Homo sapiens: one gene and its partners. The protein of the gene in region 2 purifies or fractionates together with the protein of the main gene of each other region. This does not show direct contact. Each region holds a gene or a part of one and is shown on either strand. Other genes may lie near its edges.

Region 1 (4,258 bases), on a different chromosome or scaffold from region 2:
ACTCTTTCATTTTGGAACTGAATTCAGCCTGAGGATTCTTATCAATACCATATTAACAGATGAACACAATACTGAAGATAAAACCTATTTGCTGTCTTTGTTATAAACTGTACACATTGTGTGTGTGTGTAAATACAGAGGTGTGCATATATACATACATATAAACAAAACACACATAGAATTAATAGAAAAAAGATTGAATATTAGTATTCAATCAGTTATTCATCATGTTGGTAGTATGGATGTTTTTGCTTGTCAGAAAATTTCCAATTTTCTACCATAAATTTATTTTGTAAAAAGTACATAAGAATAGCTTTTTTTTAAAGATTGCAAGACAAAATTTTTAAGATTGGAAGAGATATGAAGGAGGGAAAAAATGTAGAAGGGCAGCAGGGACAGAGCCACAAAGACCTAAAAGTTCATAGGCAAGGTGGCCTGAAACCCTCAGAAGAAACTTATGGTCACTGTTCAAACTGGGTGGCCCTAAAAATTTCCCAAGTGGAAATTAGTTCTGGGAAGAATCCTGAGTGCACCACATGTAACACTGGTACCAAATCAAACCTGCTCAGGCTAGAATTTTGAGTATCTTTTTATAACAACTATTTTTGTTAGTACACAACAGAGACAGGATTAAAGTATGGAAAGAGGACCTTCCACCCAGATATAAGTAAAAGTTGGAAACAAAATCTGTACTTTGTTAACTAGTTTATTTTTCTACTTTGGTAGTATCGTTATTTTTGTGCTCTCGGTTTCTGAGTACAGGTTATTTTGAAGAAGTTAAACACAAACAAATAAACGAAAATATCTACTTATTGGTCTAGTTGTTGTTAAGGGACTCTGTTTCTCATGCAAATTATGAGAAATAGATAATCTTACTAAGCTCATTATTTTGTGTCTGAGAATTAAGAAAAAGTCTAAACTGTAAAAAAAGCATTTCTAGAAAAGTAAAGTGAACTGAAATGTAGAAACGAATGATGCAGACTAAGGGGCCCAGTGAGGGCAACATAGTATGTAAAACGAATACCTTTCAGAACTCGTGGTTTGAACTATTTTCTTAAATATAGTTAGATGCTTTAAAATATAATATGGTTTTAAGCATTTAGTTTAATAATTTGGAGCTGCCTCAAATAATTTTTAGAATGAGTCTAGTGGATAAATAAATATATTAATGTCACATACATATGCATTAAACCATAATTGATGCTTTATCCTTACCAGTTGGGGAACAAGTTTGGTGTATCTGGCTTTACCTGGCTTAGAGTTTTTATTCTGACTTACTTAGCTGAATATCAAATTGCACATCCAATATGCTTTGTTATAAGGACCACAGACTAGACACACAGTACTTATTTATGTGAGGGAATAAGCTTAGCAGAATTAATGGATCAAGGGAAAAAAAAGTAAAGTTAACATGTCTGCTGTAATCTTACAATACATTCTGTTACTCTCCTGGAAGTCTTCGTTGTCTTTGTCAACTTTCTCTGGTTCTGAGCAGTAGGTTTTAATGTTGTCTTCTAGGTACCAGCTGAAATTTTCATCCACCACAGAAAACATCACCACAAATTCTCGGTCAATATGTTTTTCTTTTTCTTTATCTAGAGAATCTGGAGTTAAAGTTACTATTTTAGCAAGACTAAACTTTTAGCATGTATTTTGATTTATGTTTTCAGGTGATTTATAGTTTTTAAAAATGTTAGTATTTATTTTTTCGAATAAATCACAAGTCTGGACCAGTCACTCCTGTTTTACAGACAGAAACACTCAGGGAATTTTTATGATCAGTATCTGGTGCTTGGAAGACACTCCTGTGTCTGGATGTCCACTGACCACATAACTATTAAATGCTTTTTGGCAAATGGGAAGATTGGAATTCAAAGTTGTGCGTCTATTTTCTGGTGCATATAGCCACAAACAGAGACAAGTCTTTACAGGTAACGATTGTTCAAGTTAGAATTGTATTTCAGGCTCTTGAGCTCCGTTGTCTTTTTCATGATGTTAGAAATAAATACTATGATATTATGTTTACCAATATAGTATGAGTAACTACAGATCTATCACCGTGGAGTGCCCTTTTGGTAGTCACATTTGGTAAAGTCATATGTCTCTTCAGCACCACTGTTGGAAGTTAGATACAGCAAACTGAACCCTGAGAGAATATATTTCTTTCACATTACCTTCATTGGCATTTTCCCCGTAGGAATGCTTGTTCTATTTATCCCTTCTTCTCCTAGTCCTGCCTGGCTCTTCCCTTCCTTTTTTTCTACTTACCACCTCTCTACCTTACCTGCTCAATCTCAGCACAGAAGACTTGATTTCTTTTTAAAAGACAAACTGCCCTGCCCCTGTCTTTTGGTCATATAGCATGTGCAATAAGGAGAAGATGTACCTTTTTTACAGATTATTAAAGGTCCGATGAGTCCTGAGGCAATATCTTTTGGAGCATCAATGTGGGAATGGTAAATCCTAGTCACACAATTGCCATCTCCTTCCCCAGGACTTTGTTCTTCAGTGGCAAGCAACATGTATGTATACTGCTCTCCTGGATATACTTTGTCATCTGCTCTTTGAAAATCTGTGGTGTTATCAGGGTAGATGGCCCCTAGGAAGCAACATGCAATGAAGGTGCAAAGTGAATGTGTTTGAACTTAAATGAGAGAATAGATAGTCCATTAATTCATTCAGCAAACATTTATTAAACATCTACTATGTGATCCTTGGGGATGTGTTATCCTATTTGGACACAGGAAAATGAAAGGCTAATGGCTAGGGTGTGTAGAAGCTTCACAGACATTTTTATTATTTTTTTATATTTGATTGGGTTTTCAGAGAGCATAATGACTTTTTGTTTGCAATGTAAAGAACTCGGGTCATGGTATGGGAGTCTGAGCAAAAAGGCTACCCTCTTCTAAATTCAAAACTTCTTATATGATCTCAGATTTTTGCCCACGAAGTAACCATAAAATTAAAAACATTTCTACTCTCAATTTTGGAAATTTCCAAACACACACAAAGGTTGAGAGAAGAAAATGCTGAACCTCTGTGTACCCATCAAACCAGCTTTAACAATGATCGACTCAAGGCCAACCTTGTTTCATCTGTACCCCCACACACTCTTATCCCCAGTATCATCAAATTATTTTAAAGCACGTCTCAGACATCATATTCCATTCATAAATACTTGAGTATGTATCTCTAAAAGATAGGAACCCTTTTTTTCTTCTAACAAAACCACAGTTCCATTACCATACCTTTAAAATGAATGGTAATTCCCTAGTAAGCCATGAAATCATTAAAAAGAAATAGGATGGCAGTCAGCCTTTTATGCTATGAATGTAATTTATCCCTAAACAACAACAAAAACAAAAAAAGTCAACACATTCACTTTCTAAACCAATATCTCTTTTAATAAGACAACTAATAATGAATCAAATCTAATTTTAAATTAATTTCCCTATTCGATCATTATAATTTCAATGAACTGTAGCATGACTTCAGCATTTTTGCTTATGATAGCAGCTGATAGTTATTGAGGTATTACTATGTATTCTTATTATCTCTATTTTATAGATGAGGAAACTGAAGCTGAAAGAACTTAAGTAATTTGTCCAAGGTCACTCAAACAGTGAAAGGCAAGGCTGGGGCTCAGACCTTTGTCTATTAATTTCAAAGCCCTTGCTTTTCATCACTACAAAATACCACCTTTTTTACCATCATTGTTAAGGACTAAGAATGAGATCACAGGCACCAAACCTTATCTTTGTTTTTCAGGTACTATTTTCAAGGCTTCCAAGTCCTACATTCAAATGACTTTTTCAGTTAATTGTGTCTCATATGTGACTACAGTCATCCAGGCATATGTACCATTTGACTGACATGAGACTACTTATGCCACCTTAGCTGGGGCAGAGTTTATATAAAGTTAGGATGGGAGGTAACAACAGCACAGTATGTTTACATGTAGGAACTTCAAAGATAAGGCAATCCACATCTTGAGTCCTTCTTTCTCTTCCCTCTGGATTTTGCCTCTTCTAGGCTCTGATGCACTTTGTCCATTTCTCTTATTCTATTTGGCCAGAAAGGACTGGGCTCTGGGAAAGAAGCTCCAGCTCTCTCTGACTCTCACTGAGTCCACCTAGAAATTCTCTCACATTCACACTTTCCACGAAAGAGCACAACCAAGAGAAACATGCCATTATTATATGGAAACAAAGTACCTATTAATAAAATAGTTGGCCGGGTGCAGTGACTCACGCCTGTA
Region 2 (4,258 bases):
TTGTTGTCTCAAACCTAACTTTATGCCATTCATTTTATAATATTTTTATAAATGAGGTAATTTTATTACCTAACTGCACTGCTTTTCTTTTTAACCATAAAATGCTGAAATGGAGTCAAAGCTTTCATATTATTGTGAATGAGAAAAAACAAACACTTGAAAAAAGTTGAAACTTTAACGTGAAAAAACACCATCTTCAGTTTTATCACTGTAACAGAGCAACTTGTAGAAATTGTTTTGGATGTTTACAGCAAGGTAAACATCCAAAGGTCAGGGGATGAGTAATAAAGTATCTTCTGTTAGTTAATGGGGACAGTCAGCTAGAGAAGGGGACACTGTTACAGGAAATGAGACCTCGTTGAAGGTATGCATCAAAGGATGAGAAAATGCTGTTAGCCCTGAAATTGCTAATATTTTTTTAAAACACGAATTCTTAATAGCAAAGTGAAAAGTTTTACATTACATTTTTTAATAAGGGATAACAAAATCTCTTACATGTATTTCTGTGTGTTTATATTGTATATGAATGTATGAGTGCAGAAAATACTTGACTCACACTAGGTCATAATTTTATTTGTCAGTATATTGGAATATGGGGGTGGGGACCAAGTATAAAAGGAAATTTTCTATATATGTAAAATTAGATACGTACATGTATATGTAAATGTTCTTTAAAAAAACTATTAAAAACGGAAGCGATTCTTTAAAAGGTAGATTTCCTTTTATGTTGCAGTCATAGCCACGTAAGCAATGGACCTCATATTTTTTTTCAACAGGGAGCCTCTTAAACAGAATCTTACCTGTAAAACTCAGGAGCCGAGAAGCTTTAAGAACAGTGAGGTTGAAGGGCACAGGCTCTTGGTCCTTGGCAGCGATATTAGGAGGCGTGCCTAGGGAACCTCGGATTCCGGGGAGCTGGACGTGAAACTCTGTGGTGGAATAGAAATCCTCAGGGCATGAGCTATACCTAAAACGTAATGGTATTAAGAATTCTGGTAAGTGGGATTCACAAACTTGTTCTGAAGACAATTTCCAAGGTTGTCAGCCATGTCACCATATGGATGGCTTCTCATGCAGAGGAGTGAGTGATTATTGAGAAAAAAAAAAACCCACCTGACCCGTATTTTACAAAGTAGGATTCTGTGCACTTTTTTGAGGAATTAGCTTTTTAAAAAATCCCTCCAAGTTGTGACAGCTGTATCGCTATTAAAAGCTATTTGGCATTTTAACTGACTGTTGTTTAGGATTACAAATGACTCGGGGAAAAAGAAACAAGGAGTCAAAGGAAGTGTATTACTTGTGTTTATAGCCCTATCATTTTTTTGTTGTATGGAAGCAACTACTCTATATTTATATAGTAAAGTGTTTTTTTAGAGTTAATTTTTAGTTAATAATGAGCCTTCATAAGAAAAATAATTTCAAATGCTAAGTATTTGTTAGATTGTTACTAATAGTGGTAGTTAGTGATATTACATTGTCTTTTTCACACATTGAAGAGGGTTTCCTGGTGACAGCTGGAGCTTGGGGGAGGGGGAGTTACTTTCAATCAACCAGCTGCTTTGTGGCAATATCATGATGGTGATATTTCAAAGCCCATAGATAACTTTGGCTGTTTCAGGAAAGAAAATCTATCAAATTTCTGGGAAGCAACAGATAATGGGCAAGAGACCTTTGGGATCTACGTGATGGCCAACTAACAATGTGTGCATTCCGGTTTGCATGTTGGGGTTATTTACCATCTAGTTTCTTGGACATTGTTACATGCACCTCATAATTACACAGTAATAGAATCTAGCTCTAAGGGCAGGAAAATCTCATTAAGGAGAGGAAAGGAGAGTGAAAAACCTTGGTGATGCACTGCACGCTTTAACATAATACCCTATTTCATTTATTCTTGATGGTGATTCTAGAATGTAAGTGGAATTTTTTGCCATCTATGGATAAAGAAACAGAAGCTCTACAGTACTGGTTGTATGATTTGCCCAAGGCCACATACTAGTACATGATGGCCTCCATATTTGACCCCAGATCTTCTGGCATTAGCTCTAGGAATGTTGTCATTACACCAACAGCTGTTTCTCCAGGTGTTAACTTGCTTATGCATTTTTAATGCAAAGTCACAATATCAGGATAGTAATGAATGAAATAAATATAAATGTTACTTACAATGACTTCAGTTTTATAAATAATATATAGGGGTGTGTGTGTGGACTTGTGTGTATGTGTGTTTTGGCAACTACATATAATTTGGGTTTTTTTTTTCTTAAGTAAAAAGTCTCTTGGGCAATACTGTGAAAAAAATTTCACTACGTTTTTTAAAAATATATTACTGATACCAGCAATATTGCAATTATGTGTGTTGCAATGAATCAGTTGTGATTCTAAATTTGAACAAACCTAGGAATGAATTTTGTGCATACTGCCCATGTAGTCGCCCTCATCCTAACATATTGAAGGAAATTTCTTGTTTTTTTCTTTCAAGGCGTATTCATTTTTCATTCATTTATTTATTTTTTTTGAGACAGAGTCTCACTCTGTTACCTAGATTGGAGTGCAGTGGTGTGATCTTGACTCACTGCAGCCGGGACCTCCTGGGCTCAGTTGATCCTCCCACCTCAGCCTCCCTAGTAGCTGGGACTACAGACATGTGCCACCACACCCAGCTAATTTTTTTTTCTTCAGCTTTTAAGTTCAAGGGTACGTGTGTAGGATGTGCAGGTTTGTTACATAGGTAAACATGTGCCATGGTGGTTTGCTGCACAGATCATCCTGTCACCTAGGTATTAAGCCCCACATCCATTAGCTATTGTTCCTCCCTGCCTACCACACCTCCCTGACAGGCCCCAGTGTGTGGTGGCTCCCTGCTCTGTGTCCATGTGTTCTCATCATTTAGCTCCCAGTTATAAGTGAGAACATGCAGTGTTTGGTTTTCTGTTCCCATGTCAGTTTGCTGAGGATAATGGCTTCTAGCTTTATCCATGTCCCTGCAAAGGACATGATTTCATTCCTTTGTGTGGCTGCATAATATTTCATATGTACCACATCTTCTTTATCCATCTATCATTGATGGGCATTTAGGTCAATTCCATGTTTTTGCTATTGTGAATAGTGCCACATTTAACATATGCATGCATGTATCTTTATAATAGAATGATTTCTATTCCTTTGGGTATATACCCAGTAATGGCAATGCTGGGTCTAATGGTATTTCTACCTCTAGGTCTTTGAGGAATCGCCAGTCTGTCTTACACAGTGGTTGAACTAACTTATACTTCCACCAACAGTGTAGTAGCATTCTGTTTTCCCTGCAACCTCGCCAGCATGTGTTGTTTTTTGACTTTTTAATAATAGCCATTCTGACTGGCATGAGATAGTATCTCATTGTGGTTTTGATTTGCATTTCTCTAATGATCAGTGATGTTGAGCTTTTTTTCATATGTTTCATGGCTGCATGTATGTTTTCTTTTGAGAAGTGTCTGTTCATGTCCTTTGCCCACTTTTTAATGGGGTTGTTTTTTTCTCCTAAATTTAAGTTCCTTGTAGACTGTGGATATTAAACCTTTGTCAGATGGATAGACTGTAAAAATTTTCTCCCATTCTGTAGGTTGTCTGTTCACTCTAATGATAGTCTCTTTTGCTGTGCAGAAGCTCTTTAGTTTAATCAGGTCCCATTTGTCAATTTTTGCTTTTGTTGCAATTGCTTTTGGTGTTTTCATCATGAAATCTTTGCCCATACCTATGTCCTGAATGGTATTACCTAGATTTTCTTCTAGGATTTTTATAGTTTTGGGTTTGACATTTAAGTCTTTAATTCATTGTGAGTTAATTTTTGTATGTAATATAAGGGGTCTAGTTTCAGTTTTCTGCATATGGCTACCCATTTCTCCCAGCACCATTTATTAAATAGGGAATCCTTTCTCTATTTCTTGTTTTGGCCAGGTTTGTCAAAGATCAAGTTGTTGTAGTTGTGTGGTCTCGTTTCTGAGTTCTCTATTTTGTTCCATCTGTCTATGTATCTGTTCTTGTACCAGTACCATGCTGTTTTCGTTACTGTAGCCTTTTAGTATAGTTTGAAGTCTGGTAGTGTGATGCCTCCAACTTTGTTCTTTTTGCTAAGAATTGTTTTGGCTACTTGGGCTCTTTTTGATTCCATAAAATAGTTTTATCTAAATCTGCGAACAATGTCAATGAAAGTTTAATGGGAATAGCATTAAATCTATAAATTACTTTGGGCAGTATGGCCGTTTTCATGATATTG
Region 3 (3,653 bases), on a different chromosome or scaffold from region 2:
TGGGCCCTCCCCACAAGGACGCCTTGTCCTCATGGACACAGAAACTGAGGCAGGGCGGGGTGCAGGGCCATCCAAGTTCCTGCTGACGCCCGGTGGCTGGGCGAGACTTGCACTGTCTGTCCTCAGGATCCCCCCTTTCTGTTCCACTCGTTGAATGGTCCAGAACGCACCCCCCAACACCAAGTCTGTGCCGCAGGACGGCCGTTGTCCAGCAGGGACCCACGGGCTCACCCGGGCCGCCGCAGACCTGGCCGTTGTAGCGCTCACAGTTGATGGTGTCACACTCGCAGTACTGCCCGTATATCAGCTTGCCGGGGACGTCGCTGGTGTGGCACAGGCACTGCCCGCAGACACAGTCCCCCAGCCCTGAGCAGATGATGGAGTTGTTGTCCTTCCGGCAGCTTCCTTCCAGCTCCTGGCTGCTCCGGCCCTGTGTCTGGCACTCACAGTTTTTCCCAATGTAGCCAGTGTCACACCTGGGGACAGGAGGGGCCCCAAGGTCAGGCTCCCCCCAGTGATGTGGGACAAGGGACAGCCGCCCTGTCCTCCAGGCCCCTTGCCCTTGGTGGAGAACACCCCTATGGCACATTTTGCTTTCCTCGAGGCCTACTGAGCACTTGCCACGGACTAAATGTGCTCAAAACGTGCAGGGGCCCCGCGTTCCCTCCCCAGGATGTCCCGAGGGGAAAGCAGACACCTGGCCTTGGCCTGCGCATGCAGTGGCTCGGCAGGCTCACTGTGGAGCTGTGTTGCAGCCATGCACATGGCCTGTGCTGCGATACCGGTGCTCTGTGAGTGGCTGGTGTCTGCTCCTGCGTGCCCCACATGGTGGCCAGTGGGGACTCGGCACTGCCTCCTGCCACAGCCCCGCCCTCCCTCCTGCGTTCGTGCACTGACAGGCCAGGTTGTGGGAGAATGCAGGGACAAGGGGTTTTTACAGATGTGGAAGCTGGCATCAAGCCGCTGGCAGGCAGGAGCCACACACACCCTGAGGCATCCTCAGAGACGGCACTGCCACGGGCTCTCCTGCTCCCCAGAGGAGGAAGCTGCAGGACCGAGTGTCTGAGTACCTGTGGCAGGGCACCCCCCGACACCTGCCAAGTGTTCCGACTGAGTCACCCCTACAGTCCCGTGAAGAGGCCGCCCCAGGGCTGCACACCCAGGACAGTGGGCGGGGTGGCCACTGAGGCACGAGGACAGCAACAGAGACCACCAAGACCACAGAGACCATCATTGTCCTGAGATATGGGAGGAGGCTGGGGGCAGCAGGGACCTGAAGGTGAGGAAGGGCACTGCCACCAGGACGTGGATTGGCACTGCGGTCAGGACAGGGGAGGAGGTGACCAGAGCAAAGGGGGCAGAGTCCTGGGAGGTCAGCCTAGCAGCTCTGGCCAGGCAAGCAAGGAAAGGGGGACAGCCATCCAGCCCCCGGGCAGGCCGCCTGGCTGAGTGCCATGTGAACCTCCCCACTGGGTCCACCTGTCCCCCACTTCTCCCTGAGGTGGGGTGCCCACGCCTGGCAGGGGGTGTGCACGCCCAAGAGGTGGCCTATGGGGCCCAGGCTCCCAGAAGCCATCACCTGTCCCAGGAGGCTCTCTAGCCACCCATGCCCCAGGGCTGCCAGCCTGATGGCCTTGGGTCCCCAAGGTCAGAGAGAAGCCAGCTCCTAGGGTCAAGGAAGGTCGGGCAGAGAAAGTGACCCACTCAAGGCCATGGGCACGCCCAGCGGGGACTCCTTGTGCCCCTGAGATGGGCCTCCATCCTCTGGTGAGGGGGTCCTCCTGCCCACAAGTCCCCTGCCTTGGGTCCTCCATGGCCAGAGAGTGTAGAGTACAGGCTGGCATTGCTGGTGCCCTGGCTCAGGAGCACGGGTGAGGGCTTGCCGAGGGGTTCTGGGTTCCAATCCCAAATCTCCCCACCTCCTGCAGAAGGGGGCCCCCAGGATGCCTGCTCCGTGGGGTGGGGGAAGGGATGGAGCCACCTGCACCCACCTCACCTGCCGACACCTGCCCTGTGGGGTGGGGCTCGGGGATGGTTCAACAGGGACCTGCGCCCGCCTCACCTGCAGATGCCGCACTCCAAGAAGCCCTTGCCATGGCAGAGGCTGCGGTCTCTGCTCTGGTCCCGGCACCGGCACTCACACTGGGGAAGAACCTGCACGGTCACTATGTCCGTGAAGCCCAGCGCCCGGATGACAAACGACTGCTCCTGGATGCACTCTGTGGCCGTGACCTTCACCTGGAAGGTGATCTGCAGGGCAGTGCTGGGCTCAGGTGGGGACCCTCGGTGGCCAGGGTGGCAGCCCAGCTCCCAACCCTCACCTCCTGGCCTCTGCAGGGGTCCTGGGGGGTTCAGCGTGGGGAGGAAGGGGTGACCAGGAGCAGGAAGAGCTGATGCTCAGATCCGAGAGCCAAAGTCAGCCGGCAAGGAGGTGCTCTGCCCGCACTCCCGCACTGGCCGGCACCAGGATCTCCCCGGCCACACATCAGCAGAGACATGTGACACGCAGACAGCAAATCAGGAGAAGCTGAGCACACTCCCACTCAGACCACCCAACATGAGGGAAACGTTCTGGTGAGAATCCATGGGACAGCTGGGCGCCGCGGCTCACGCCTGTAATCCCAGCACTGTGGGAGGCCGAGGCGGGTAGATCATCTGAGGGCAAGAGTTTGAGACCAGCCTGGCCAACATGGCGAAACTCTGTCTCTACTAAAAATACAAAAATTAGCCGAGCGTGGTGGCACACGCCTGTAGTCCCAGCTACTCAGGAGGCTGAGTCAGGAGAATCACTTGGATTGTAGTGAGCCAAGATCGCACCAGTGCACTCCAGCCTGGGCGACAGAGCGAAACTCCATCTCAAAAAAAAAAAAAAAAAAAAAAATCCACAGGCAACATTTACCAAGAAACATGTTTGAAGGAATTCCAAAGTCATATTAAGAAAATGCAATGAAAGCAAGTGTCTTGCTGAATATTATTTCACAGCTAGCAAAAAAAAAAACAAAAAACAAAAAACAAAAAGAAACAACAAATGATTGGATAATAAACTTAAACCTGAAAGATTAGAGAAGGAACTCAGTGTCCATTCCTAACCACCTGTGTGGCCCATGCCTTAATGTTTCTGTCAAAAAAACAGAATGAAACACGCAGAAAATCATGACAACTAACCCTACCCAGGTTTGCCGTTTGCGCCTGTTCTGTGTGTCCGGCGTCTGCCCCCAGGGGGCGCAGCCATCACTCCATCCCTCAGTCTGCAGTGGCCTGACCCAGGGATTTGGGCTCCAGGTTGATGAGTAGGACTCTTGGGGGCCAAGGCGTGTGTGAAGAACCCTCCCAGCACCCTCTCACTGAGAAGCACCCTCTCGGCACCCTCTCACTGACGTTCCTGACATCAGCTTCACAAGGAAAGCGTCTGGCCTCGGCAGAGAGGATGTGAAGGAAAGAAACAGGGTCCTTCCAGTGGATGCTGCCTGCTCCCAGACAGCCTCTGATGCCTGTGTGCCCCTCCCTGCCCCCGTCAGAGTGCTGGGATGGGGACCCTGGCTCCTTCTGGCTGTCCCCAGGACCCCTCAGTGTGCTGGGATGGGGACCCTGGCTCCTTCTGGCTGTCCCCAGAGCCCCTCAGCAAGCTGGGATGGGGACCCTTGTGGCCAGGC
Region 4 (4,258 bases), on a different chromosome or scaffold from region 2:
TTTCCAATATCACTGCCACTTCCTCCAGGAAGCTTTCCTTGACCCACTTCATACATTGTTCATTTATTCATTCTGCAAACAGCACAAATTCCTCCATCTAAGCTTCCTTGATAGCACATAAGTAGATTTTTCTGATGGCACTGATCAGATTGTATCACAATTATCTGTGGGCCCCTTAAGGGCAGGACTTCATTTACTTGTGTCCTCAGATCTACTACAGAGCCTAGTACAATATTGTCACTCTGAAAATGCGTGCTGAATGAAGTCCTTTAACAGCTCCGTGGCTTAGTTTCTTCATCTGTAAAAGAGGGCAACTAACATCTTCCTTTTTTCTGTTAGGAGGCCATTGGCAAGATTCTGCCTGTAGTGTTTGTGTTTGTGAAAGTACTTTGTAAACTACAGAGGAGGTCTTCAAATGCAGGACAGAAAGGAAAGGGTTTAATTGCTGCCAGACTACAATAGCCAGAAGGGCAGGAGACCTGCCTGGCAGCACCTGCTTTGTTGGCCTGGGGATGTTTCCTAGGTGGTTTATAGGTGGTTTCCTAGGTGGGTTTTCCTAGGTGCCAGGTGCGGTTTATAGCTTTGCTCACAGGGCTTATAGTGGGGCAGCTACTTCTGGCTTCGTGTCTGGCCTGTTCTTTGGGTGTGCCCAGATTCTGCAGAGTTCCCACTCCCTTTCCATCCTATGCTGGAATCCTGAGCCCTATTGCTTAATGAAGGAGTGTTGTAGCAGGAGGCAGGGGGAGTCATTGGGTGCAAGGGAGTGGTCCAGCCTTGTCTCTTCCTCCAGCTCACAGCATTACTTGGGCAAGTCCCTCCCTCCCTCCCCCATCTGTAAAATGGGGGTTAGGTTAAGTGACTTGTCTTCTGGGTATTTCTCTTGTCACACCTCTCCAACCCCTTGGGAATCCTGTTCGTTCTCTAAGTCCTAGCTCAAATGCCACTCTCATGGAAACACTCCCTGATTTTACCCTCCTTCCTTTGCAGTCCTATGGCACATGACTTATGTCTCCATTTCAAACACCTGTTTTCCTTATGCTGTTTTGTTAGACGTTACACAGTGTCTACATGTTAAGTCTTGTTAACTGTGAGTGCCTTCAGATTGCTTCACTCTCCTTTATACCCCACCCCGCACAGTTCACCTGGCCCAGGACTTTGCTGATAACAGTAATTAATATAGCAATAGCAGCTATGACTTACTGATCATTTGCTTTATGCCAGGCACTGTTGTAAAAACTATTTTTCTTATGTGAGTGGTTTTCAGACTGTCTTTTCAGTCACTGTGAGGGGTTTTCAGAGCCCCCTCAGAATGTAGCAAGGGAGGGGGTTCCATATTGTAGGGGCTCTGGAGCTCCCACCTTACTTCAGCCAGAGCAACTTTCTTGTATTTGTTTTATTTATTTTATCAAAGGATTCTTTCTTTCTCTCTCTCTTTTTTTTTTTTTTTTTTTTTTTTGGAGACAGGGTCTCCCTCTGTTACTCAGGCTGGAGTGTTGTGGCACAATCACAGCTCACTGCAGCCTCCAACTTAGGCTCAAGTGATCCTTCCGCTTTAGCCTCCCGAGTAGCAGGGACTACATGTGTACCACCATGCCCGGCTGATTTTTAAAAATTTTTTGTAGAGGTGGGATCTTACTATGTTGCCCAGGTTGGTTATCAAAGGATTCTTTAGCTAAAAATTAAACTGACAGAATTTTGCTGCATTTATTTTTTATAATCTGCAGAACAGTCCAGTGAGGAAGGAATTGTTCTATTTGTGAGGAAGCAGGCTCAGAGAGATGAAGCCACGGGCCCACAGTCATGAACTTAGCTGATGGGAGCAGAGTTTTAAATTGAGATCTGTGTGAGCCATTCTTGTCTGTGAAGGAGTCTTGCTAGTAGCTATGACAGCTTCTAGGGTAGAAAAGCTCCCAAGGATTGCTGAGTGGGTGACAGGGCCTGCTTCCTGCCCTCCCCACAAAAAAACCTCATGAATTTGGCCTTAGCCTTAAGAGTAATTATTTCAAGCTATCAAACACAATAAAAAGAGAAAGCCCAGGCTCTCAGTGGCTTGGCCACTGGTGCACTTACAGGTTGATCTAGAACGTATCTAGATGGTGCCGTTCTCGGAGCTGGGCCTAGCTGCTGTCTGTGCCCTTGAGCTCAGCTTGTCTGCAGATGTGTTGGGGCTGTGCTCTGCTGGGTCCTGTGCTAGCCATTTAGGGAGATGGAGCGGAACACTCCGAGGGCTACTGGTGTGGGAAGATGGATGAGAGAGGGAATGCCCCCATGTATGCTCTAATGCACAAATGCCCTGGACATAGAGCCAAGAGACCCAGGTTCTGGTCCCAGCCCCTCCACACAGCCTGTGTGTGACTTTCCTGGACTTGAGTCTTGTCCTCTGTAGGAGGCTATTATTAATAGTGTTTATTGAGTGCTTAATTTGTGTCAGGCCCAATGTCAAAGGGCTTCACATAGCTGGCCTCATTTCATTCACAAACTAACCTGAGAGGTAGCTATTATTATTCCCATTTTATAGCAGAAGATGTTGAGGCTTAGAGAGGATAAGTCAGTCCAGTTAGTAAATGGCAGAACCTGAACTTGAACTCTTGAACTGGTTGTTTTTTGTTTGTTTGTTTGTTTTGAGATCGGATCTTACTCTGTCACCCAGGCTGGAGTACAGTTGTGTGATCATGGCTCACTGTAGCCTCGACCTCCCCAGGCTCAGGTGATCCTCCCACCTTAGCCTCCTGAGTCATTGGGACTATAGGTGTGCGCCACCACACCTGGCTAATTTTTGTATTTTTTAAATAGAGATGTAGTTTTTCTATGTTGCCCAGGTTTTTAGTAGAGATGTTGTTTTTCTGTGTTGCCCAGGCTGGTCTCTAACTCCTGGGCTCAAGCAGTCTGCCCGCCTCAGACTTCCAAAGTGCTGTGATTACACAGCTGTGAGCCACCACGCCTAGCTGTTGAACTGGCCTTTGAAAGCATTGTATCGTATTGCCTTAGGAATAGGGTCTCCCCTGCCTGCCTCACAGAGTTGTGAGTGAGGATAGGGAAATGTTTTTACATCAGGGTAAGGAAGACATGCTGTGGATGAATCCATGCTATAGCTATGTCATTTGTGACTGATGAGGGTCAGGGGTGTGTGTTAGAGACTGCGTTTGCCCCATGAGTTCTGCAGATAGAGATGGGAGTACCACAGGATGGGCATTTGGAATTCTGTTTGATTCATTTGCCTATTCATTCATACAGGAAATATTTACCAAGTATCCATTCTACACTGGGAGCTGGGGATAAAGTGACAAACCAGACAGGATCCTAGCCCTTGTGGAGCCCCTTGATGTGCAGGAAAGGAGAGTTAGGAAAGGAGGATTTCAACCCTGACTCTGCAGGTCATTGGCGGGGTGACTTTGGGTAACTCGTTGCTCCTCTGGAAGCCTCAGTTTGCCCATCTGAGCAGTGAGATCATAATTCCAACCCTACCTATAGGATCAGTTGAAAGGATGGTGGTGGAAGTGCTTTATGGTTGTAAAGTGCCATACTCTGCCTAGTTTCTGGCCTCATCATTCTGACTGATATCTTGCTCTTCCTGCAGGGCTGCCCAGGAGCTGCAGGACAAGCACCAGGAGCCCCTCCGGGTAGCTACTACCCTGGACCCCCCAATAGTGGAGGGCAGTATGGTAGTGGGCTACCCCCTGGTGGTGGTTATGGGGGTCCTGCCCCTGGAGGGCCTTATGGACCACCAGCTGGTGGAGGGCCCTATGGACACCCCAATCCTGGGATGTTCCCCTCTGGAACTCCAGGAGGACCATATGGCGGTGCAGCTCCCGGGGGCCCCTATGGTCAGCCACCTCCAAGTTCCTACGGTGCCCAGCAGCCTGGGCTTTATGGACAGGGTAAGTAGTAATCTTGGACTCCGGGTACCTCTGACGTGGTTCTGAGTTATCCATGGCCAGCCTTTGTCCTTCCTGTGGGTGTGCAGGCAGCCTGGTCTCTGGCACCTTAGCATCTTGCTTCCAGCTTCAGTGTGTATCCTCAAAATGATAAGTTTGTCAGCTAGTTTTGTTGCAAGCATTTATTTGTATTGCTTGCTCATGCTTACTTTCTTTTGCTTACATGTCAGCAGCTGTTAGCTGGCTGTTGAGTTTCTGTTCCCTGTGTCTTTTTCATTCAGGGATACATGCTGAAGGAGCAGCTCCTGTTTGGGATATGTTATCTTTGTGGCAGAGAGAAGGAGCAGGAGAGCTAGCAAGAATGCACAATGCCTCTTAAAGCT
Region 5 (4,258 bases), on a different chromosome or scaffold from region 2:
GGAGGTCTGGGGGATGGACATGGAGATGCTAGGGTCTCCTCTCAGCTCCGTCCAGCTGTTCTTTGGAGTAGGTGTGGGGAGGTCCCTCCCTGTTCACCTGTCCTGGGAGCCCAAGGCCCCTGCACCACCCCAGCCTTCCCACCTAAGGACCCTGGCAGGAGCCAGCAGATCAAGGCCTGACACCTCTCCTTCCCTTCGGGACCCCGGCGGTGTGGGGCAGGGGCTCAGTGGCCCTGCTGCTCGCCTCTGGAGCTTGGCCTGGCTGGGCAGAGGGGTTCCCCTGGGGTGACCAGGGTACCTCGAAGGGCGCAGATAGGGAGTAGTCGAAGGAGAGGATGAGGTCCAGCCTGCGGCCTGGCCGGAACATGGAGGGAGAGCTGGTGTTGATGAAGTAGGCGGCGTCCACCAGGCAGAGCCGGGGCTCCTTGGGGGTCAGCTGGCTGGGCATGGAGTCAAGCTGGTAGTCTGGTGGGAATCGCAGGATGGTCAGAGGCCACCACCCTGCCACAGGTCATCCATGTCCCCTTCTCTCCTCTGGGTCACTCCTTAAATGCCACCCAGCCCTTCCCCAGGACCTTCCAAGGGGATCGTCTCCAGGCCACACCCCAGAAGTGGATGCTGACCTCCTAGGCCTCAGCCAGTCCCTGCCACACCACCCAGAGGCCCAACCTTGTGACCTAGGGACCCCTGGCCACGGCCCTGACCTGCCCAGGTGGAGAAGTCTTTGTGGCTACAGTAGTCCTGGTGCAGCTGGAGGCCCTGGAGGAAGTTGGGGCTGCGCTGGTGGAGGGGCCTGCCTGTCAGGAAGCCTTTAAATGCCTGGGCCAGCGCCGTGCCTGGCTGCAGCCACGAGGCCTCCAGCCGCGAGGAGGTCCCCGAGGTGGTCAGGGGCTCCTTCTCTGAAGCCAGAGAAACAGAAATTGGTCCCTTCTTCCCCTTACTTCTTCCCCTCAGACACCGCACACCGCAAGCATTCTAAAGGAACAGCGTCATCCCAGGCCCCTCAGTGCCCCTGCCCTTCCCACCTAAGCTCCTGGTCTTGTCCTTGATGTGCTGTTTCCAGGACTCCCCAGAACTGGTGAGGTCATACCAGGCATCCAGCAGGTTCAGGGAGAAAATGTTGCTCCAGATGGCTGAGGAACACCAAAAGAGATCAGCCTCAGGCCCCAGCCAGCGGCCCCACCCTCAGGTACTGATGGAAAATGGGAGTGGGGCGAGGGCTACCCCTACAATGCATCCCCCCCGCCACCCCTCCCCCTTGTCCTGAGGTTCTGCCCCACCTGAGCTACAGGACCCATGTCCATTCAGACACCTGGCCCAGGGCTGCCCAGGGCCTTCAGAGCCACCACCCTCACCTTCCAGAAAGCAGATCCGGGGCTCCGGGATCCTCCTCATCAGCCGTCCCATGAAGAACTCGGAGCCGAAGAGCTCAGGAGGGACGAAGGCCCCGTACTTCAGGAAACCGACCTCATAGGGGGAGAACTCAACCCACTCTAATGGGGTGGGAAGGAGAGGCAGGAGTGTGAGGGGAGTGGATTGCGGGAGTCCCCAGCTCTGGCGAAAGACACTGCCCCTGCCCCCAGCAGGCCTGAGCCCTGCTGTGCCTGGCACCAATGCAGCAGATGTGAGGAATGGGCAGTCCTGGACTGACCACACCCCTCCCAGCCCTTGGTCCACACCCTCAAGCACTACCCACTCTCAAGCACAGAGAGATGCCCTGAGCCCCTCAGCACCACTGCCCTTCCGGAACATTGGGCAATCTGTGCGGAGCTTCCAGCATGAATTCTCTGGGGGCTGTCGGGGTGCAGAGGGTTTGGGGGGTGGAGTATGTGGGAGGGGAGTAGGTAGAACTGTACCCTTGAAGTCCAGTGTCTCCAGATTGTTCTCTTTGACATTGAGGCTCAAGTAGAGGGGCAGAGGGTTCTGACCCCGTTCCAGGGCGGCTCTCTGTCCTGACAGCTTCTGATCCATCACCTGGGGCCAGAGGGCATCAGGGCCTAAGTGAGGCTGGGAGTACCCTGGAGGCAGTGGCTCCGCCAGGACAGGGGCAGGATGGGGGACCTGGCTGGGGGTGAGGAGGCAGCTCCTCCCGTGGGGTCTGGGGACCATATGTGGGTCAGTTCCCACTCCTGCCCCTGTGTTCTGAACAGCCCTAGATGCAGGGTCGCTGGACAGGGCATGCAGGCTGTGTACTATGAATCTCCAGCGAGGGCCATTCATAGGGACCACAATGCCAGCGGTGCTTCCAGGCCCATCTTCGTGGATTTAAGGGTGAAGTGGGTGTGGATACTGACACACAGACACAAGGACACATGCACACATCCACGTATTGCTTTGTAGAAAGGATGCAGCAATGCCCTTTTAGCATATACTGCAACCTATGCCAGGGGATGGACTGCCCCCTCTTCTAGGTTCACCTTAATGCAGTTCAAGTTTCAGCTCCTCCCGAATGCTTTCCTGACATCCTTGCCTCCCCCTCATCGTCCCTCTTCTTTCTTGCTTTGCATAACATGAGGTTGTACCCCATTGATTATTCTTGCCTTCTGTTCTTAATTTCCTCCTCAATAGAGCTCCAAGCTCTGCCTTTGTTTTATTTTATTTTGAGACAGGGTCTCACTCTGTCACCCAGGCTGGAGTGCAGTGGTGCAATCTTGGATCACTGCAACCTCCACCTCCCAGGCCCAAGTGATCCTCCCACCTCAGCCTCCCGAGTAGAGTAGCTGGGACTACAAGTTACACTTGGCTAATTTTTGCATGTTTTGTAGAGATGGAGTTACATCATGTTGCCCAGGCTGGTCTCAAATTCCTGAGCTCAAGCAATCCACCTGCCTTGGCGTCCCAAAGTGCTGGGATTACAGGCGTGAGGCACCATGCCTGGCCCAAGCTCTTTGATGGCAACGACTATAGCTTGCCTTTTGGGGGAGCCTCCACAGAGCCTCCCTGAATTGTAAGGGAACAGAAAGGCCTCATTCTATGCTGAGCTAGAATTGCAAATAGAGCTCTTCCCAAGCACCAGCAAGGCGAATGGTGGTGCCTGCCTGGAGCACCACCTTGGGAAGGATTCTGCCGCCAGAGCTGAGGTTGATGCTGTCAGCCCTGGGCTGTTTCTACTGGGCAGTATGTGTACCATGAATACGTCATCCTTCCTTTGGGCTCTCCAAGATGGAAGAGTGTCTAGTTCTAGAGGCTCCCAACCTGCCGCAGCAGCCCTTATCATCAGAGTGACTCAGTGAATGTGTACACGTGAGAGCATGTGAAGCATGCGGACTTCTGGGTCTCCCCTGAGAATCAGCCTGTCAGAAGTCACTTTGGAGTTTGCCTTTTAAAAACCCTCAGATGATCCTGATGCCCAGCCAGGTGTGAGGATTCCTACCCAGCCTACCCAAGGAGGGTCCCTCTCCCACATCCATGGCGAAACTCAACACACCCAGTGTGTGTGTCCTCCTTGCTGGCAGCTCTTCTGTCCCTGACGAGAACACTCATGTGTCAACCACAGTCATCCTTCCACCCCATTTTCCAATGGTCCCCAGTATGAATTACAGGGAATTTGCAGGAAATCTCTAAATAGGGCTCGATCCCCTGCCACTGATGGTGGTGGTGTACGTACGAGTCAGTCCTTAGGTACAAATGTGTGTACGTGACCCCTTCTCAAAATCTTTTTATTTAGAAACTCTGTTGCTCTTTTGATACATATGACTAGGGAAAATGTGTCCTTTTACTATAGTTGCACAATTTATGCCCTAGGGAAAGTTCTGGAAAAAGGTCAGCACACCCCTCCATCTACTGAAACCCACCCGGTATATCTAATGGCTCACCAGTAAGCTGCGGCAGGACTCTCAGTCTCTAACCCCCCAGTTTCCAAGCAAGTAACCCCAACCCTGCAGAACACCATTCTGATGATTCGAGGGTCCCATGGGAAACACTGGAGCTTGGTGCAGTACCGGCAATGCAGACTAAAGGGAAGGAAAGTGTGTCAGCTCTTAACTCAGGAAAGGATAAGAGAACCACTCTGAGTTTCTCCTTGAGGAATGATAAGCAGCTTCTAAGCAGTTCAGTACTTGCCAGCAAAAGACTGAAGAAAAAAGTTTCGAAGAGATGAGAGTTTGAGAAGCACTGATTATAGCTAGTGTATTTTACGAGCGGGTTTTTATAAAAACCTAATCAATATTAAAGATGTATGTAGACTAATAAAGTCATTCTGAGCAAAGTTTCAGGGTATGATATTTATTAATATTAATGAAATTGTGATTGGTCATAA
Region 6 (4,258 bases), on a different chromosome or scaffold from region 2:
CTAGTGGAGGAGAGTGTTCAAGAAAGAAAGACTGAACCAACTTACCTATTTCCAGGAAACCCACTGCCCGAGACCTGATCTCCTCCGTCAGCAGCCCTGCCTTCTCCAGGTACTGCAAGACATAGATGATGGGAGCAAACAAGACCATGTTCTGCTCGCCACAGCCACTGGGCATCTGCACCAGACCATCCAGGTTCTGCAGGGCTGTGCCCATAATGTCTCCTGGGATCCAAAAGGAGAGAGAGAAGGTAGGGGTACAGAGAAGAAGGGACCCTCTAAGAGTTATCATCATTCACTGAACAAACACGTATTAGCTATCATTTAATAAGTACCTACTATGGGCCGGGCGTGGTGGCTCACGCCTGTAATTCCAGCAGTATGGGAGGCCGAGGAGGGTGGATCACCTGAGGTCAGGAGTTCGAGACCAGCCTGACCAACATGGACAAACCCTGTCTCTACTAAAAATACAAAAAAAAAAAAAAAAAAAGTACCTACTGTGTGTCCTGGGAAGACCACAGTAAATCAAACTCGGTCTCTACCCTCAAAAAAACTCACAGAGGAGCAAACCATTACAACACATTACAATTTTTATTCATTATAAACAATTTTAATACAGTACTACAATGTCATACTGGATATGTACGAGGTGCTAGGGGACACGGAGAGGCACATAAGCTATCTAAGAGAGTTCAGGGCTTTTAAGAAGACATGTCACTGAGCTGATGAGTGATGTGACAAAACTTATAACACTTAGGATCAATCTCTTAAGCTCCTCTACCACTGCATGTACGTTCCTCACCCTCCAAATCACCAAGTTTCTCTAAAACACAGTTCTGACACTCTTTTCCAAGTTGTCACTGACCCCTTCATATACTTCCCAAGCCAGTGAACCTGACATAAGTGACTCATTAACATCTGCATTGTAGCCAACAAGCTCAATTCAATCTATAAATGTGTCCTGAATGTCAACTATGTTGCAGGAACTGTACTAGGAACACAAAAGAAAAAGATGTGGCCCTTCCTCTTCAGGAGCCCCCAACACAGTGTGGAAGACAGATATAGACAGTGAACTCTAATACAATAAGATAAGTGCTATGTCAGACTTACGAATAAAATAGACAAAACAGAGACACTGTGACTGCAAAGGATCTCAATAGAGGGTGAGGGAGTAAAGAAAGAGCCTAACATTCATAGGGCTCCTACTACATGCTAGATATTGTGCTGGGGACTTTATATTGCATTTAATCTTTACACCAGTCTGAGAGGTAGGTTATTATCACTGTTTTACAGAAGAGGAAAGAAGGCCCAGAACTGTTCACTAACTTGTTCAGGGTCACATGGCTATTAAATGACAGGTTAGATATGATTTCTACGTTCATGCTTTTCAACCCACTTCCTCCCTTGCCCCAAACAGTAAGTGTGCTGCCTATTGTAAATATGGTTGTATCTTCCCTAAACTATACCCAAATTCCTCAGTTTTGAAAATGGTTGCTGCAAATATTCTGTTTTCCCTTCACCCAATTTATAGACTGTCTAAACCTAAAATCAAGCATCAGCGACCTTACCTTCTTCCTACCCTGACTCTCTTCCATTTTTAACTAGAGTACAAGTCTAATCCCATCTGTACTGTTGCCTACACTGTATTTCCCTCCTATATAAAATACGCTCTTTTTCCTTCATCACTTGTTATTAGTTACACTCTCCGGATAGGTCCGTATGTCCCGCCCCACTCCACACCTTTGCAGCCTCCATTCGCCTTTTCCTTTCTGAGTCAAGAATCTCTAACTGCTTACCCAGAACCGTAACATAAGCCTTGGTCGAGTCAGGAACAATGTCCACTGGGAGCTCCAGGGAGACAGATTCAGATGCCACCTTTCCTGTGAGATGCAGAAAAAAAGGTGACACAATAGAAGATGGGGAATGGCAGGGGTTCTCAAGACAAAATTTTAGAAGAACTTTCTATAATCCAGGGATTTCTGTACTCGGTGCTTTCTCTGGGATGCAGAAAGCACTGGGTACTATTCATAGTGATCTTGCTGAAAATAAATTCCACAGAGAGTCATCATCGTGCTGCACACTTTCTCTTCTTCCTCCTGCCTCCCAGTTAATCAGCCCCATGAGGAATGGCACTTCAGACTCTCCTATTCCTTCTGGTACTATGCATTCCTCCTTTTGCCTATGAAAATCTCCTGCTGCCGGGTGCAGTGGCTCACGCCTGTAATCCCAGCACTTTGGGAGGCCAAGGCAGGAGGATCACAAGGTCAGGAGTTCGAGACCAGCCTGGCCAATATGGTGAAACCCCATCTCTACTAAAAATACAAAAATTAGCCAGGCATGGTGGCATGTACCTGTAGTCCCAGCTACTCAGGAGACTAAGGCAGTAGAATCACTTGAACCCGGGAGGCAGAGGTTGCAATGAGCTGAAATCGTGCCACTGCAATCCAGCCTGGACGACGGAGCGAGACTCCGTCTCAAAAAAAAAAAAAAAATGAAAAGAAAATCTCCTGCCCTCTAAGGGAATTCTCACCACCAATCCTGCTCTGAGTCCACCCACCTTTTGGGCACAGCAATGAGCTGTGTGTCTTCTCCACCAGGACTCCCTCAGGCTGCGATGAAGAGAGACACAGATAAAAACAACAAAGATGAACATCAGGAGGGATGGCACTAAAGGAAAGGGAAGGGAGGCCCCTCGCTGTGCCCCCAGGGCTTCCCTCAGAACTGCAGACAAGAGCTTCTCACTGAAGCTCAGAAGAACTCTGCGTCAACCCAAGGATGGGCCCTTTCTGTAAAGTTCTTTCTGGGCAAGTGCTAGAGCCAAAGACACATTTAGGCAACTTCTAAGAGGCAAGATTGACAATGGGCTTCATGATGGGACGAAAAAGGCAGCTATTGATGAAGACAGACATTTTAATTAGGTAAACTAACATTTGTTGAGTGCCTATGAGGTGCCGGGTTTTAGGTGCTTTCATAGGCCGTGGGTGTGGATTAGGCAAATGTTCAAGGGGCCAGGGAAGGAGAAAGTTGAAGCTGCCTGGTTGGACTGGAGTATGGTTGCTGTGAGAGACTAACTCACAGCAAGACGAGATGCTGAGCATCCCTCGGTTGGTTGCTGTCTCTACCTCTGAAGAAAACTCACTTTGACGAGAACTGGCTTGATGAGCGTGTCACTTCGGCCCTTTTGGGGAACAAACCCCTTCTGGCCCCCACATGGTTCATTGCTGTCCAGAATCTTTGTACTAATAGTAAAGTTAATGTGACCTGAGAGAAAGAAGAAGGGAAGCCATTAGCCCTATTGCCAGAGGTACCAGTGAGGTCCATTCCCATTTGGATCAGCATTTCTGAAACTTTAATGGGGATCTTGCAACAGTGCAAACTCTGCTGCCATAGACCTGGGGTGGGGCCCATATTCTGCATTTCTAACAAGCTCCCAGGTGATGCCAGAGAGGCTAGTCCAGTGTGGTAGGTAACCTCTAAGGGCCCTCAGAGATCCCTGCATCCTGATATTTACATCCATTGAGTGTGAGCTGGATTGAGTGACTCGCTTCTGTTAAAGAGAACAGGGTGAAAGTAATGACTCTTCTGGGATTAGGTTACAAAAAAGACTGCAGCTTCCATCTTGGGTGCACCCCTTTTCTCAAACTGCTTGCTCTGGGGAAGACAGCTGTTGTGTGATGAGGCAGCCCAGCAGAGAGATTCATGTGATGAGATACTGAGTGAGGCCCCTAGCCAAAAGCTGAGGTCAAGAACTGTGTCCTTCAGTCTAGCAGCCTGTAAGGATCAGAGACTTTGGGATGAGCTTGAAAAATCAATCCTCTCCTAGTCGAGTCTTCAGATGAAACCAGAGTCCTGACTGACAGCTTGATTGCAACCTCATGAGATACCTTGAGCCAGAGGTACCCAGCTAAGCTGCACCCAGATTAATGACCCATAGAATCTGTTTGATAATGTTTGTCCTTTTATGACACTTAAGTTTTACAATAATTTGTCAAGCAACATGAGATAACTCATACATATGAAAATCAAACTTTGAGTTGCAAGGATTTAATCTATGAGTGACTGACATCCCATAGGGTTGGGGGTGAGGATTAAACAAGTTAAAGGTGCAGTGACTCATTCTTGTAATCCCAGTACTTTGGAAGGGTGAGGCGGGAGAATCACTTGAACCCAGGAGTTTGAGAACAGCCTGGGCAACAGAGCAAGACCGCTTCTCTGCCAACTGAATTAGCCAGGCATGGTGGTGGCATGAGCCTATAGTCCC
Region 7 (4,881 bases), on a different chromosome or scaffold from region 2:
CCCACCACAAGGCTACAGGGTGTCCCCTTGTCCTGAGGCTCTTCCAGACATCTGGCTGAGCTTTGGTAGCTCTATTCCAAGCCTGGAGATGCCAGCTCCGTCCTTGGCACAGAATGCTAGTGATTTGCACAAGGGTGAGAGGCCAAAAGAGGCTAATAAAATGAAGACAGGCAAGCTCCATGGAATTAGACAACAGGACAACCTTGACCACTTTGAGGGGCGTGGTGGGGGCCGCAGGCAGAGGGGGTGGGTTACAGAGTGACTAGGAGAGCAGTGGAGGCTGCAGCAGGAGACAAGCCTGGCTCTGAAGACAGCGAGCCCTCCAGGGAACATGCGGTCAGGGGAGGTTCTGAAAGATGACACACTGCAGAGCGCATTGGTTTGTATGCTGATGACAAGTATCCAGTAGGAAAGCAAATGAACAGATTTTCATTCTCAGAAAGGCCTGTCCTGACCTCCTGAGGGTACACAGAGCACAAGGGGCAGGACAGGGAGGTGGATGCATGCTCATCGATTCATGCAAAGTCCTCGGCCAAAGTCCCCCTGCTCCCCACCTCTGGGACTTTGTCCTTCCTCAATTTAAGACATTCCGGGCTGGAAAAATGGATTATTGAGCAGGAGTTGGCTGATGCATTCTAAAGCTAATCCACTAAAAAGCACTTGAGAGATATATCAAAAGATCACAAAGAAATAGATGCTTTAGGCCCATATCCATGTCTTTACCCCGCACTTTCTGCCAACTTGAACTCTCATTTTCAAGAAGAGTTGTGTTTTGGTTAATTCTATATAGCTCACAGTGTGACTTCAAAACACACAATAAATCCACAAAGTGTGTCCTACAGTGAGTTCAGTTAAACTTTCTGAAGAGTTTTTTTGAAGTATAGCAGAGCAGGCTACAACTGATATTCAAAAAAAGAAAACTTCCATTTATTTCCCCCTTCAATTAAGTTCTCTGTGTTATGTTACTATGCTTCATAGCGCATCGCTGCTGAGATCCCCTCCCCAGCTCATGTCCCTAGGAAATATCCCAAAACAGAATCAAACTTTTCTCTTTTCAGTTTGAAATAATTTTCCCCCATTTTTTCTTCTCTTATTCACCTCTAGGACTCATATGGCAATAGGATTTGATAGGGCTTATTTGCTGGCAAGGAAACATCAAACAAATCTTTTAGTGGAAAAATACATTTATATTATAGGCAAAATGCAGATGTATATTGCTACTGATGCAAATGTATTTTATTAATGGTGTGAGAATTTCTTCCTCACTGTGGTGTGTGAATGTGTATGCATATTTGCATGTGTAAAAGACTTAATTTGTGAAATGGAAGATGTTTCTCCACTTCCCACTAAGCATGGCTGTAAAAGAAACTTTTCCCTCTCCCCGGGCATTGCAGCACACTGGAAAGATGATACATCCACAGAAAACCTGGCTTTCCAAAAGAGCTTATGAGAGAATGTGCCCACCAGGTGGGTTAAAACATATGTTAATCCTGTGGCAGAGAAGTTTGATCTAGCCTTTGGGTGTAGCCCACTGAATAAGTTCATAGTGATCTATGTCCTAGTTTCCATGCATTGAAATATAATATTCATACCCCCCAACATACACCAATTTCTTACAAAAATTTCTTTAATTTTCTCCTGCTCTGTATTTTCTTTGATAGCTCCTTGAATGGCTTCCACTAAATTCAAATGTATTTGACTCTAAAGTGCAACTTGTAAAATTTTATCTGGTAATTTATAGATTGAATTTCAAGCGTACATTATTTACATGAAGAACTACTAGCAAATCGTATGATTCCGTTTGTATGAAATGTTCAAAATGGCAAAGATATAAATACAGAAAGTAGATTAGTGGTTGCCAGAAGCTGCAGATTGGGGGTAACAGCTAAGGAGAGTGGAGTGCGTTTTTGGGGGTATGAATAGTTTTAAAATTTATTCTGATGGTGGCTGCACAACTCTCAATATCTTGAAATCCATTGGATTGTATGCCTAAATGGGTGAATTCTATATGTTAATTATATCTCAATAAAGCTTTTTTTTTTTTAAAGAAAAAGAAGTACTAGGACATGTTTAGAATATTCTTTCAAAGGCTTAAACAAAGCTGAAAAGTGAGAAGAGCCCTAGATTCCTTCTGGGAAACCTGGCTTAAATCCAGTTTTCTTTATTTCCCAGATCTGAGAATTTGGTCACTGAGCAAATAACATGATATTCCTAAGTCTGATTTCTTTGTTTATAAAATGAGGATGAATATGCTACCCTACCTATACCACGAGCTAAATAAGCTAGTATTTGTAAAGGATACACACTCACACTCACATTCACACACAGGTATGTATGTATGTGTAAAAATGTAGGGACCTAACCCAAGCAACTGAGTATTTGTTGATCACTATCTGCACACAGCATCTGGCAAATGGATGCGTGTGATTTTTCCGGGGATAAGAGGCAAACGTATACTGATGGAAAGCCTTCCTCAGGCCATAACAAAGGGAGAAATGCTGAGTCCCCGACCCTGCCGCCACCATGAACTGGTGAGAGAACGGAATATATTCAAAGAGATATTTCACTGTTTTAACTTGCAAGTGAGGGGAGCATGACACCGTAACAGAGATGATATAAATTAGTCAAACTGAGAACCAGGCAAAGAGCTTAGCCGTCCTTTGCATAATTAGCTACATTGGCTCTTTTTCAATTAGACTGGCCATTATGTGGGTGCACTCATTTAGATTTGAAAAATCACCCATTATTTTCTCTGCCCATTCATTCCAGCACCCTGACAATCTTCACAGGAAACTTAAACTTATTTCTTGAAGAATTCCTCAATCTTATACAAGATTTTCAACTGGAAGTTTCATGAATCAAAAATTAAATGAATTGCACATAAAGCCATGGCATATGTATTTTTACTACATTGTGGGAGAAAAAATAATTCTTATAATTTAAAAAAACTATGTCTTACCTGATTTCAGAAATAAAAGAAGTAGAAGAACCACTTCCTTATGTTCCATTTTGGGACTGGCCAGCAGTGCCCAGAAAGTGGGTCCCAATCCCAGGATGTTGTTGACTTACATGAGAGTAAACGCATCCACAAACCAGATAGTCAAATTAAGTTAATGATTCTCTCAGAGACCCATGCCACTGGCTCAGCAGGGTTCAAACATTACCTTGAATAAAGAGTCCTTACAACATGTTTGAGGGTGGAATCTGCAATAGATGCTGGGAAGTGGTGAAAGCAATCTCCCCCCTCGGCTGCTCCACGCTGCCGTCATGTCTCCTTATTCCTTCCCTCACCCTTGTACTTTATCTCTCGCAATTAGTCTTATTTCCTCCCCTCTTCTCTTATTCCCTTTCTTTTGGAGAAAATGAAATCATAAAAGTATCTCACATTTGCTGGAACCTTCCATGACGAGACCCTCTGCCAAGCGCTGCACGTCCATAGCCTCCCTCAAGCTTCCCAACAGGCAGGGCTGTTCTCATTCCTGCTGTACGAGGGATGGGGCTGAGGCCTTCCCCAAGGTTGTGTCTCTACCCAGGGGTGCAGCTGATAGACAAAACCCCTTCAGGTCTTAGATGACAAACTTAAGTTAGGTGTAAACGTTAATATCTCTACATCCTACACCAAATGACATAGAAATTACGACATAAGTGAAAGTATCTTATTATCTTCAAAATTTATTTATTCCCAGTGAACTCACATGTTTTCTGTAATTATAAATTATGTTATAAGACATCAATCTTTCCCCCAAATGAACGTATGCCATATTATTATATTCTCATTCTCATGAAATAAAGCAAGACTGGTAGCATTAAGTGGAAAGCGTCTATCTCAATTTTAAATGTTGAATCTGTACTTTTCCCTGGCTTAAGTCTAGAGCAACCAGGTAGTATATATGCTGTAAAACTTCTATTTTAGTGTTCAAAGATATTTAGGAATAAATCAATTGACCTCTCTATTTTAGATGTGAAATAAGGACCAGAAAGCATTGTTCCTCTTTCCAGGCAGTGAAATTCCTGCCTATTCATTAACTGGCAAAAGAGTAGAGGTGGGAGCCCAATGGTCTTGGGTGGAATGTCCTGCGGAATTCCCTGGGATTGAGGAACCATGCAGAACCCTCAAGAAGAAGCCACACTGGGCAACAAGAGGGTGGCCCCATGTGAGGGACAGGGGGACCGAATCGCTTTTCCTGATTTCCTATTTTAGCCTCACTCTCTTCTCTCCTCAAATTCTTACCACTCCCTTTATCCTCTCTGACTCACCTCATGGCCCAGTTCATTAAAGGGGACAGAAGGTGGAGGCAGATTGAGAAACCAGCAGTGGGCAGACATTTTATTTTTAATGTGAAATGTCTCTTAGGGGGCTCATGTTGATGTGCTTGAGAAAGTACTCTGGGAAAAAAAAATACTCTACTAATATATAATGCTTCCAGCATGTATTTATTTCCACTTAAAATATTATTGTAGCAGTTCCTCTTGGATAAGGCACCTTGGGAATGATGTTATCAGAAATTCTACATCCACATAATTTTCTTTTCCTGTTGTTTTGGTTTTGACTTGGGTGGTGTTGGTATAGCTTTTGCCCACCTTTCCCCTGGTAGTTGTTGGATGCATTAAATTCTACAAATGTGATTTTATAAATTAGTTGCCCTCCTAATGGCCTCCTGGCTGTACATTCTTCCCTACCTTCATAATCCATCAGCATCGTGAAAGCACAGAGGGACGTTGAGCAGAGCTCTGTGCTGGCGCCACCGCACTCTGTAGCCTGTAAGAGAGCAGCAAAGAGGAATGTGTTGCTCAGGTATAGACGGGGGTGGGTGCATAGAGACTTCCGCTGCGGCATGGCCCTTCATGTCCAGGGTAGGCATGAAGCAATGGACTATTCCA

Evidence for each region.
Region 1: the proteins of RHBDD1 (region 2) and CP purify together in Homo sapiens (affinity purification with mass spectrometry; one large-scale study listed by BioGRID and IntAct). This does not show direct contact.
Region 3: the proteins of RHBDD1 (region 2) and ITGB2 purify together in Homo sapiens (affinity purification with mass spectrometry; one large-scale study listed by BioGRID and IntAct). This does not show direct contact.
Region 4: the proteins of RHBDD1 (region 2) and PEF1 purify together in Homo sapiens (affinity purification with mass spectrometry; one large-scale study listed by BioGRID and IntAct). This does not show direct contact.
Region 5: the proteins of RHBDD1 (region 2) and PLA2G4D purify together in Homo sapiens (affinity purification with mass spectrometry; one large-scale study listed by BioGRID and IntAct). This does not show direct contact.
Region 6: the proteins of RHBDD1 (region 2) and A2ML1 purify together in Homo sapiens (affinity purification with mass spectrometry; one large-scale study listed by BioGRID and IntAct). This does not show direct contact.
Region 7: the proteins of RHBDD1 (region 2) and PLG purify together in Homo sapiens (affinity purification with mass spectrometry; one large-scale study listed by BioGRID and IntAct). This does not show direct contact.

The regions. Positions count from the first base shown.
Region 1 is NC_000003.12:149,207,781-149,212,038, forward strand, and holds part of CP (ceruloplasmin precursor), read right to left. Parts: intron 2,600-4,258; coding exon 2,387-2,599; intron 1,605-2,386; coding exon 1,431-1,604; intron 1-1,430. UniProt on the Homo sapiens protein: Multifunctional blue, copper-binding (6-7 atoms per molecule) glycoprotein. It has ferroxidase activity oxidizing Fe(2+) to Fe(3+) without releasing radical oxygen species. It is involved in iron transport across the cell membrane.
Region 2 is NC_000002.12:226,838,633-226,842,890, forward strand, and holds part of RHBDD1 (rhomboid-related protein 4), read left to right. Parts: intron 1-776; 5' UTR 777-995; intron 996-4,258. UniProt on the Homo sapiens protein: Intramembrane-cleaving serine protease that cleaves single transmembrane or multi-pass membrane proteins in the hydrophobic plane of the membrane, luminal loops and juxtamembrane regions.
Region 3 is NC_000021.9:44,889,747-44,893,399, forward strand, and holds part of ITGB2 (integrin beta-2 isoform 1 precursor), read right to left. Parts: intron 2,251-3,653; coding exon 2,063-2,250; intron 477-2,062; coding exon 232-476; intron 1-231.
Region 4 is NC_000001.11:31,634,842-31,639,099, reverse strand, and holds part of PEF1 (peflin), read left to right. Parts: intron 1-3,577; coding exon 3,578-3,878; intron 3,879-4,156; coding exon of another isoform or gene 4,157-4,254; exon of another isoform or gene 4,255-4,258. UniProt on the Homo sapiens protein: Calcium-binding protein that acts as an adapter that bridges unrelated proteins or stabilizes weak protein-protein complexes in response to calcium.
Region 5 is NC_000015.10:42,070,419-42,074,676, forward strand, and holds part of PLA2G4D (cytosolic phospholipase A2 delta), read right to left. Parts: intron 1,975-4,258; coding exon 1,857-1,974; intron 1,494-1,856; coding exon 1,356-1,493; intron 1,134-1,355; coding exon 1,026-1,133; intron 900-1,025; coding exon 705-899; intron 466-704; coding exon 299-465; intron 1-298. UniProt on the Homo sapiens protein: Calcium-dependent phospholipase A2 that selectively hydrolyzes glycerophospholipids in the sn-2 position. Has a preference for linoleic acid at the sn-2 position.
Region 6 is NC_000012.12:8,853,128-8,857,385, reverse strand, and holds part of A2ML1 (alpha-2-macroglobulin-like protein 1 isoform 1 precursor), read right to left. Parts: intron 3,259-4,258; coding exon 3,137-3,258; intron 2,607-3,136; coding exon 2,555-2,606; intron 1,878-2,554; coding exon 1,794-1,877; intron 223-1,793; coding exon 46-222; intron 1-45. UniProt on the Homo sapiens protein: Is able to inhibit all four classes of proteinases by a unique 'trapping' mechanism. This protein has a peptide stretch, called the 'bait region' which contains specific cleavage sites for different proteinases.
Region 7 is NC_000006.12:160,700,432-160,705,312, reverse strand, and holds the start of PLG (plasminogen isoform 1 precursor), read right to left. Parts: upstream 3,070-4,881; 5' UTR 3,009-3,069; coding exon 2,960-3,008; intron 1-2,959. UniProt on the Homo sapiens protein: Plasmin dissolves the fibrin of blood clots and acts as a proteolytic factor in a variety of other processes including embryonic development, tissue remodeling, tumor invasion, and inflammation. In ovulation, weakens the walls of the Graafian follicle.